Regions from separate parts of the Homo sapiens genome. Here region 1 is linked to region 2. The links come from fine-mapping of genetic effects on gene expression. A gene starts in region 2. The other region holds a variant in brackets. All regions are shown on one strand. Distances are from middle to middle. Region 1 has its middle 10 kb from the start of SNORD88C. Region 2 holds the start of KLK15 (kallikrein related peptidase 15).

What was found.
Region 1: its variant is fine-mapped to the expression of KLK15 in thyroid (GTEx, PIP 0.94).

The regions. Positions count from the first base shown.
Region 1 is chr19:50,810,019-50,815,388 of GRCh38, forward strand. It overlaps the pseudogene TMEM277P. Among named protein-coding and RNA genes, the nearest start is that of SNORD88C, 10 kb to the left of the region's middle. The variant A/G (reference allele first, on the strand shown) is at 2,550.
Region 2 is chr19:50,831,380-50,836,749 of GRCh38, forward strand. It overlaps KLK15 (kallikrein related peptidase 15), which reads right to left and starts at 2,195. Exons shown (of 6, transcript NM_017509.4): 1 at 2,148-2,195; 2 at 71-144. The coding sequence starts at 113. The region is part of intron 2 of LOC105372441 (a long non-coding RNA gene); the gene reads left to right. RefSeq lists a silencer at 4,585-4,844 and an enhancer at 5,005-5,054.

The DNA.
Region 1 (5,370 bases), 21 kb before region 2:
TGGGAAATAGGATTGGGTATTGGGTAGAGGTTGAAGTTTGAGTGTTAGAGGACGAGGTTGAGAGTGGTGTCAGGAATAGGTTGCAGTTGGGATGGGTTGTGGTTGAAGGTGGGTCGTAGTTGGGGTGGGTTGTGGTTGGGGGTGGGTTATGGTTAGGGGTAAGGATGGGTTGAAATGGGGTAGTTTGTGGTTGAGGATGGGTTGGAACAGGGATGGTCTGGTTGGGGGTGGGTTGGGATGGGGATGGGTTGTGGTTGGGGATGAGGATGGGGATGGGTTATGGTTGGAAGTGGATTGTTGTGGGGATAGGTTATGGTTGGGGGTGGGTTGTGGATGGGATGGTTGTGGTTTGGGTTGGTTGTGGTTGGAGTGAATTGTGGTGGGGAAGGGTTGTGGTGGGGATGGGTGGTGGTTGGGGGTAAGTTGTGATGGGAGTGGGTTGTGGATGAGGATAGGTCATGGTTGGGGATGAAAATGGATTGGATATGGGTAAGAGGATGGAGTGGGGAATGGACTAGATTGAGTTTGGCATTGAAGTTCACAGGTGATAGAATTGGGTTGCATTTGAAACATATGTTGAGGATGGTTGGGATGCTGCAAAGTTGGTTGTTGAGATGTTTGAAGAGGTTGCGGATGGTAATGAGGATGGTTTGGTGATTGGAAAGAATGTAGAATTGGGATGGAGTAGGGGCATGAGGGAAAGGGATGTGAATGAGTTTGAGATTTGTTGGTGATGGAGATGGGACTTGAAGTGGAGGCTGGTATTGGGGCTGGAGATAGGGTTGGGCTGGTGGTTGATGTTTTTTATGGGAATGGGTTAGAGATTTGGAAGGAGATGGGGTTGGGATTGCGGATGATGGTCAGGATGGGGATGGGATTGGAGTGTGGTGGGGATGGGATTGGGTTTCATGATTGGCACTGGAGGAGGTACTCCTCGCCTTGGTTCCTGAGGGAAGTGCCATGCCTGTCAGGATGCTGGTGATGAAGGTGAAGAAATCCAGCATGGACGGGTTGGAGCCGGTAAAGAGGATGGTGCTTATTAGGGCTATGCAAAGGCAGAAGCTGGTGATGCTGGAGAAGAGGAGGAAGGCCCAGGAAAGGTCCAGCAAGTCTGGGGAAGGAAGATAATCAGGAACACCATGATTGGCCCAGGCTCTGAGTATGGGGACAAGGGTCACCAGTTGGTGTGGGAGTATTCTCAAAGCTCCTCCCTTGCAAATTATTTATTCTCATTTTAGGAAAATTTAAATTGGGCTCCAGAGAAGAGACATTGAGACTGATACTTCCAGCACTGAGGATCTACCTCTAGGTTGGTGAGGGCAGCTTCTTGGGCAGTGAGAAGTGGGGTGGGCAGTGAGGAGCATTCCCAGAAGTGAGGACCACTCTAGGGCTGTGAGGACAATCCTAGGGCAGTGAGAACCCTCTGAGGCAGTGAGGACCGTCCCAGTCATTGAGGACCATCCGAGAGAGTGAGGACTATCCCAGGGAGTGACGACCATCCCAGGCAGTGAGGACCATCTCAGGCAGGGAGGACCATCCCAGGCAGGGAGGATCATCCCAGGCAGTGAGGACCATCTCAGGCAGGGAAGACCATCCCAGGCAGTGAGGACCATCCCAGGCAGTGAGGACCATCTCAGGCAGGGAGGACCATCTCAGGCAGGGAGGACCATCCCAGGGAGTGAGGACCATCCCAGTCAGTGAGGACCATCCCAGGGAGTGAGGACCATCCCAGGCAGTGAGGACCATCCCAGGGAGTGACGACCATCCCAGGCAGTGAGGACCATCTCAGGCAGGGAGGACCATCCCAGGCAGGGAGGACCATCTCAGGCAGGGAGGACCATCTCAGGCAGGGAGGATCATCTCAGGCAGGGAGGATCATCCCAGGCAGGGAGGATCATCTCAGGCAGGGAGGACCATCCCAGGCAGGGAGGATCATCTCAGGCAGGGAGGACCATCCCAGGCAGGGAGGACCATCCCAGGCAGGGAGGACCATCTCAGGCAGGGAGGGCCGTCCCAGGCAGGGAGGGCCGTCCCAGGCAGTGAGGACCATCTCAGGCAGGGAGGACCATCCCAGGCAGGGAGGACCATCCCAGGGAGTGAGGACCATCCCAGGCAGGGAGGACCATCCCATGGAAGTAAGGGCCATCTCAGGCAATGAGGACCATCCCAGGGTGGTGAGGATAATTCTGGGGCAGTGAGGATTATTCCAGGGCAGTGAGGACCATCCTGGACCAGTGAGTACTATCCCAGGGCAGTGAGAATCATTCGAGAGCAGTGAGGAGTATCCCAGGGCAGTGAGGACTATCCCGGAGCAGTGAGGACCATTCTAGAGCTGTGAGGACTATCCCAGGGCAGTGAGGATTATCCTGGGGCAGTAGGGACTATCCTATGACAATGAGGACCATCCCAGTGCTGTGAGGACCATCCTGGGGCAGTAAGGACCATCTCAGTCAGTGAGGATCATTTCAGTCAGTGAGGATCATCCTGTGGCTGGGAGGACCACCCTGGGGCCGTGAGACTCATAAAATACCTGTGAAGATCATTGCAGG[A/G]AAGGAAGAAACCATTCTGTGACAGGTGGAGGGGTCCCTGGGATAAAGTGGAGCGATGGGTCCCAGGAGTGGTGAGGGCAGGGCAGGCCTTCCAAGCATCCTGGCTGTGCTCATGCAGGCAGGAGATGTCACAGCACTGCTTCTCCTCCCCCAGAAGTCTAGCTCAGAACTTGGCCTCCGGCCTGGGCACTGCCTCATACCTGCCAGAATTGATCTCAATGGAGCTGCACAATGAGAGGTTTTGCATGTTGTCTAGAGGACTTTGGTTGAGTTCAGAGCTGAGCACACTTGCCTTCAGACTCTCCTGGGACTCCCAGGTAACTGATTCAATGCTTTTGATACTGGGCTCGGGGCCGTAGGTAAGTGATGGGAGCACATTGACAATGGCCCAGGCTTGGAAGTTGGGGGTTGGAACACTTAAATGGGCAGTCTCGGTTGTTGACAGGTAGTTTTGGTCATGATCTTTGTTGCTGGGGATAATTGATGATTAGTCAGGGGGTGAGAGCCTTGGATACTGAAGCAGCGAGTTTGGAAAATTGGTGAAGCACCTCGCATACTGAAATCGTGGCTGTAGGTAATGGCTGGTGTTTCTGGGATACTGATCTGTTGACTGCTGATAGCTGGTGTAGGGTCTTGGATACTGACCTGGTGATTGTGAATAATTGGCAAGGGGTCTTGGATACTGACCAGGCGATTGCTGCTGGCTGGTGGAGGCTGTTGGATACTGACCCCGTGACTGTTCCTGGCTGGTGGAGGGTCTTGGATACTGACCCGGGAATTGTAGGTAATTGGCACCACCGTGCCTGGCTAATTTTTTTGTAATTTTAGCACAGATGGGGTTTCACCATGTTGGTCAGGCGGGTCTCGAACTCTTAACCTCAGGTGATCCACCTGCCTCAGCCTCCCAAAGTTCTGGGATTACAGGCATAAGCCACTGCGCCTGGCCCTTATTATTATTTTTTAAGGTATAGAAATCTAGAATTTTTTTTTTTTTTTCTGAGACAAAGTCTGGCTCTATCACCCAGGCTGGAGTGCAGTGGCATGAGATCTCGGCTCACTGCAACCTCCGCCTCCCAGGTTCAAGCCATCCTCTCACCTCTGCCTCCCACGTAGTTGGGACTACAGGGGAGTGCTACTATTCCTAGCTATAATTTTGTATTTTTTGGTAGAGGTAGAGTTTTGCCATGTTTCCCAGGCTGGTCTCGAACTTGTAAGCTCAAGCAATCTGCCCACCCCAGCCTCCCAAAGAGCTGGGATTACAGGCATGAGCCACTGTGCCCAGCCTTAGAATTTTTAGGTAGTTTAATTTCTTCACCTTTGTCTCTGTGACTTTATTAATTGCTTCTTGGCTTCGGGAGGTTCTCCCTCCAGATTTTTGATGAACATTCAGTTCTGTTTTTTTAAATTCTCATTACTTATTTTTAGGTTTTGATTGTGATTTTGGAGTTGGTATGCAGGGAACATTGAATTCTGTGCTCCCTGCTGTCCTAAGGAAGGGACTTGAATTAGTCAGGAGTTTTTGGGTCACAAGTGACACAAACTCTTTTTTTTTAAATTTTTTTTATTTTTTACTTTTTTAAATTTGAGATGGAGTTTCACTCTTTCACCCAGGCTGGAGTGCAGTGGCGTGATCTTGGTTCACTGCAACCTTCACCCCCCGGGTTTGAGCGATTCTCCTGCCTCAGCCTCCGGAGTAGCTGGGATTACAGGCGCCCGCTGCCATGCCCGGCTAACTTTTATCTTTTTAGTAGAGACGGAGTTTCACCATGTTGGCCAGGCTGGTCTCAAACTCCTGACCTCAGGTGATCCACCTGCCTCGGCCTCCCAAAGTGCTGGGATTACAGGTGTGAGCCATCGTGCCCAGCCACAAGTGACACAAACTCTAACTTGAACTAGCTTGAGTGAACTAGTTGTATTAGCTTGAGTGAACTAACTTGAACTAGCTAGGGGATCCTTTATGGGATCACCTGAGTGAAAAATGGTAATGGTAGGAATGCCTTCAGGCATGGGTGGATCCAGGGGCCCAAGTGATAGTATCAGATATTACTGTTTTTTGGCTATGGGATTGGCTTCATTCTCAAGGCTCTGTGTAGTGGCAAGTCAGAATCCAGTAAGGAAAATAAATCATTCCAGATTCTTCAGAAGGAAGTAAATACAGGGAATTTGTTCGTGAGTAACAGAGGAGCTGAGAAGCCAATAGGAAATAGTGAGGCAAACCAGGAGTTAGGAACTACAGGATGCTGCTACTTGGCCAGAAGGACAAAGGGAGGAGGTGGTATTACTACAGTCCAGAAACTGCAGCCCTCTGGAACGCATAGGTTCATGGTTGGATTGCTCAGAAGTGGCTAGAATCAGAGAATAGATACAACTACTACGGAAGACCCACCACATGCAGAGATAGAGAGGCTAATAAATACCCTGGCTTGCCCTCTCCTCCCAGAACCAGTCTTCTGCCAGTGCCTCCCATTAGTCAAACACAGTGATAAGATGGTGAGCAAAGGAGGCTGGGAAATGTGGTCCTTGCAGTGCAGAACAGGACAGGGCGGGAAATGGATCTGAGAGCAGACAGACAAAAAACTGGCAGAGTTGTTAGCAACTTGGCAGAGTTGGTAATAACTGCCGAGTCCGGTAGAAAAAAGTTATCAACAGTTCTTGCAAGAATCCTGTGTGGCTTGGGGCACATGAGCACCCCGAGCCAATTATATGGCCAGTGGAGTACAGTTGGCTGATTGGCTTAAGACTGGGGCTGAGAATGGGGAATGGGCAGGAGGTGAAATGCATGGTGGGGAGGTAAGCTGCAAATATCCACTCATTCTGACCA
Region 2 (5,370 bases):
TGGGCCCAGACATGCTTGGGAAGGGGGCACCTGCTCCCACAGACCTGGCCCCCTCCTGGGGCCACCTCACCTGTGGATGCCAGCAGGAAGGAGAGAGTGAGGAGAAGCCACATTGTGGAGGAGGGACCAGGGTTCGGCTGCAGTCTGGGGAGGGAGTGAGAGAATCCAGGTGAGGCAGGACCCTTCTGCCTCCACCAGGATCCCTCCAGACACAGACTTATCCCATCCACTGTTAATAAATTTCTTCTGACCACCGGTATCCCCTTCCCCCAACCCCACTCTGCGCTTCCTTCTGGGTCCCCCATCTCTGGAAGGTTTACTCTTCCTCTAGGCACTCGGACAGACCCTGCCCCACCTCCTCCACCTGTCAGCCTCCAGCACCATGCTACCAGCCCCTGGATCTCTCTCCATCATCACCAAGGACCCCTGTCCCAACTTTTTTTTTTTTTTGAGACGGAGTCTCACTCTGTCACCCAGGCTGGAGTGCAGTGGCACAATGTCGGCTCACTGCAAGCTCCACCTCCCAGGTTCACACCATTCTCCCGCCTCAGCCTCCCGAGTAGCTGGGACTACAGGCGCCCACCACCGTGCCCGGCTAATTTTTTGGAAATTTTTTTTTTTTAAGTAGAGACAGGGTTTCACCGTGTTAGCCAGGATGGCCTCAATCTCTTGACTTCATGATCCACCCACCTCGGCCTCCCAAAGTGCTGGGATTACAGGCATGAGCCACCGCGCCTGGTCTATCTCAACCCTCTTATCTGGCCTTTTGGGTCCCCCTCCAGTCCAGTCCCCTCCACCAGCTTGCCCTCCAGCCATGACCCCAAAGGGTCTTTCTACATCTGGAGCTGGCTGTGCCCCTCCCCTGCTCACCACCCTCCATGGATCCTTGGCACCACCAGGATAAAGTCCAGCTCTTCAAATTCACTTTCTTTCTTTTTTTTTCTTTTTTTTTTTTTTTTTTGAGACGGAGTCTGGCTCTGTAGCCCAGGTTGGAGTGGAGTGGCGTGATCTCCGCTCACTGTAACCTCTGCCTTCTGGGTTCAAGAGATTCTCCTGCCTCAGCCTCCCAAGCAATTGGGATTACAGGTGTGTGCCACCACGCCCAGCTAATTTTTGTAATTTTAGTAGAGACGGAGTTTCACCATGTTGGCCAGGCTGGTCTTGAACTCCTGACCTCTAGTGATCCACCCGCCTCAGCCTCCCAAAGTGCTGGGATTACAGGCATGAGTTGCCTGGCTCCAGCCTCACTTTCAAGGACAAAAGTGGCTTCTTCCCTTCCAGCCCCTCTCCCTGGGTCTCCCATGACCTTGTCCTAGACGCAGCCAGTGCTGCCATTTTCCCTCCTGCCATTTCATGCTTAGGCTATTCCTCCCACCGCATATCCAACGCCATTCCCTTCCAGCCCCGCTTCCTCCTTGAGGCCTTCTCTGACCTCCCCTGACCCTCAGTGGTGTCTGCCTCCCCTACGAGACTGGCAGCTCCCCGAGGAGCTGGTCTGACTCCACTCTGGGTCTCCAGTACTGCAGGGCCCGACCCACGGGAGGCCTCAGGAAGCTTTGAGGGTGAATTGAAATCCTTCTTCCCCATATCTTCCAAATTCATCTTTGTCCTCTGACACTCTGCCCCCACCTCTTCTGGGAGGCCCCAACACCTAACAGGTGTCTCCCCTGAATCCCACAGCACCCATTCTGTCTCCATTACAGCGCAGATGCCCCATACTTGCTGAGGTCTGGCCTGTTCTTTTCTCCATCTGGGGGTCTTGAAGATGGGGCTCAGGTCAGGTTCTTTCTGTGACCTCAGCACTGCCCCACCTGGGGCCTGGTACACAGGAGGCCTCCGGGAGGTTGTGCTGAACTGACTTGAACCCGTGATCACTCCTGACCACGTTCTTGGCTCTGATACAAGTACTTCAGGGACGTCCTCCTGATCCACTCCATCCCCCTCCCTCCCCACCACTGCAGCTCCTTCTGGCCATTCCAGGACATTTTCTTGGTTCAGGTTCAATTTGGGGCATTGGTAAAGGACACGTGGATCTACCCATGCCCTTGACACTCAGTTCTCCAAGCGTGGTCAACGTTTCCCCTTGAAACCAGGGCACAGTGAATCTCCCCTTTGCCCCTCCCTCAGTCTTGTCTCAAAGCTCTCACCTCCTCCAGATCCTCCAGCAGCATCTAGGGCAGCTTGGGTGCCAGAAGGGAGCAGGTACCAGGATGCCTGAATTTATAAGCTCCCAGTCCCAGCTGGGTCTGGGGGTGTGGTGGTGTAGGGTGGGGTGGGAGGTGGCTGAGAGTCAGGTTTACAGGCAGAGACGCCTTGGTTGCTGGTGGGGTGGGAGACTTGGCCTAATGAGCATTTATTAGGTTGAAGCTGTTGTCTGAGTCCACAAAGAGGAATTCTCCACCAGGAGCAGTTCCTCAAGGGGGAGGGGACAGGAGGACAAAAACAGAAATTAGGAGGAGATCAAAAGACAGAGTCTGGAATTTGGGGTCTGGAGTGTGGAAACTGGATCCTAAAGTCCCTGTTCTTGGGCTTGGGGCAGAGTTCTGGATCCCGGGTTCTGGATCCGGATCTGGTTCTGGATCTGGGTCTTGGATTCTGGATTTGAGGATCTTGAGTTGGAGATTAATGACCTGCAGTCTGGAATATGGATTTCAAAGTCTGAGTTCTTGGGCTGGGGGTCTGGAATCTGGATCCTGGAGTCGGGCCTTTGAGTGACAGATCGTGAACCTTGATTCTGGATCCCGGGGCATTCGAATCTAGAACCCACAATAGGAGCCTGGAATCTGGTGTTTGGAATCTGGCAATCGAGGCTGGAAACCTTTGCACCTGCTATGAGAAGCCTGGGGCCTAGACTACAAATGGTAGATTTGGGATTTTGAATTGTGGGGTCTGGATTCTTTTTTTTTTTTTTTCTGAGATGAAGTTTCGCTCTTGTCACCCAGGCTGGAGTGCAATAGCGTGATCTCAGATCACTGCAACCTCCACTTCCTGGGCTCAATAGATTCTCCTGCCTCAGCCTCCTGAGTAGCTGGGATTACAGGCGACCACCACCACGCCCAGCTAATTTTTATATTTTTAGTAGAGACAGGGTTTCACCATGTTGGCCAGGCTGGTGTCGAACTCCTCATCTCAAGTGATCCACCTGACTCAGCCTCCTAAAGTGCTGGGATTACAGGCGTGAGACACCATGCCAGGCTTGGGGTCTGGATTCTACAGGGTGGATCTAGCCTCTGAGCTTTCAGGAGTAGACTTTGGAACATACAGTCTGGAGTTTCAAATCTGTTTTTGCATTGAAAACCTGGACTGTGGCTGGGCCCAGTGACTCATGCCTTTGGGAGGCTGAGGTAGGAGGATTGCTGGAACTGAAGGGTTTGAGACCAGCCTGGGCAACACAGCAATACCTCATCTCTATGAAAAATCTAAATAAATAAATAAATAAGTAAATAAATTTTTAAAAGGCTGAATTGAGAGACAGGGACCTGGCTTTCACGATTCTGAGATTGCTAGAATCTTGACTCTAGAGTCTGAATTTAGAGTCTGGGAACCCAGGGTCTCTATTCTGGTCCTGTAGTCTTATTTCTGGGTTCTAGAGCTTGAAATCTGGATTCTGCATCCCAGAGGCTGGAGATGATCACTGAGATGACCCAAGGCTTTGGGTATTTGAGGCTGGCTTCCAATGTCTCAGAACCCCAGAGGGCCCCAAGCAATTATCTAGAGTCTATTTTGGCTTAATTAATGAGGAGGTCCCAAGACAGGAGGGACTGACCTCACTCAGGTCACCCAGTGAAGGATGGGACCTGTTGTAAGCGTGGTCTCTCCCCATGTGTGGAAAGTCATCATCTTTATGGGAAGGATTCAGCCATTCTAGAACTACAGGCCCCTGGAATTTCTAGAATATCAGACTTTCAGATTCTAAAAGCACAGGCCCTAAGACATTCTGGCAGTGGAGGACACTCTGGAAGGTAAGATTTTAGAATAGCCTAGAACCACAGAGCTCCAAACACTCTAGAACCTTCGAACATCGGGCACTCTGGAGTCCCCAGAAACCTCATGCATTCTAGAACGTCGGGTCTCCAGACATTCTACAAGCCCAGACCGGCAGACATAATAGATCCCCAGGTTGGAAGCTATTCTAGAACTCCTATGTCCCTTTGCCTCCCTCCCCACAAATTGATGCTCAAAGTCTGCGGGCCTCACCCTGGGCCACCGCTTCAGCTGAGCAGCCCTGTTTATGGAATGCGGCTGCAGGCCACTCCTCCGTGCCAAGTGCTCTCTTTGTAGGATCTCACTCCGGCTCCCGGCAGCCCTGTGAGGTGTTTATATTAATAACCTTATGGCTTCCTGCTGAATACGGAGGAAACTGAGGCCCAGACAGGAGGCAGCACAAGCAAGGTTCCTGCAGAAGCGAGAGGCCACGCGGGAGAGGAATCAGTGTTCCGACTCCGGAACGCCCGGTGGGCCCTTTCGCCGCCACCCCTGCAGCCGCCTCCCTCTGTTGGGGCGCGGTGGTGACGAGGGAAAGGAGCCGAGCCCCTGGGACTTCCTCGGTGCCAGGTCTGTGCTGAGCGCTTCCCGTCACGATCGCACGTGCTCCTCCTCCTAACCAGCCTAGGCAGGTACTGATGAAGCACCCCTGATACAGACGGGGACACTGAGGGCGCTCCCGCCGCGCCGAACCCAGGCGCGCACCCGGTCTGCGCTCGGCTCCCTGGAGGGCGCGCAGCCAGCGGCTCCCGCAGCCCCGCCCCCACGCGGTGACGTCGGCGCCCCGTCCCCGCCCACTGTGTCTGGCTCAGGCTCGCGCGATCGATGTCCTCCTGGACGTGTCCGCGGACGTCCTTCACCTCCACCGCGGCCTGGGTCCCGCCCACCGCGGCCTGAGTCTCACTTTTGCCCGGCTCCTCCTCCTGAGAACGTTCCCTGGGAGTTTTTCATCAACTCCCGTGGTTCATCCACCAACCACGCAGGTCTCCTCCATCTGACCCTGAACTCCGGCTTGGGCAGCCACCTGCTCCTGGGCGCCCCCTGCACCACTGTCCCTAGGCCCCTCTCACTTACCGAGTCCCAACTCATTGCTCTATTTCCCCAAACCCTCCTTCCCTGTTCTTCCACGTTCTTCATCTCAGGGGCAGCGTCACCGACCACCCAGTTATTCGGCCAGACGCCCTTGGCACTGACCTTGCCCCATCTCTCCCCTTATCCCCTACAGCCCATCGGTCCCCAGCCTTGTCCCTTCGGCCCCTGCCTCTCTCTGCCCCGTCCCCTCCTCTCTGTCCCCTTGGCCTGGCTCCAGCTCAGACGTCCTCCTCTCTCTCTGGACCCTCGCTCCTCCTGTCCGGGAGGACAGCCTCCTGTCGGTCACCACGTGGC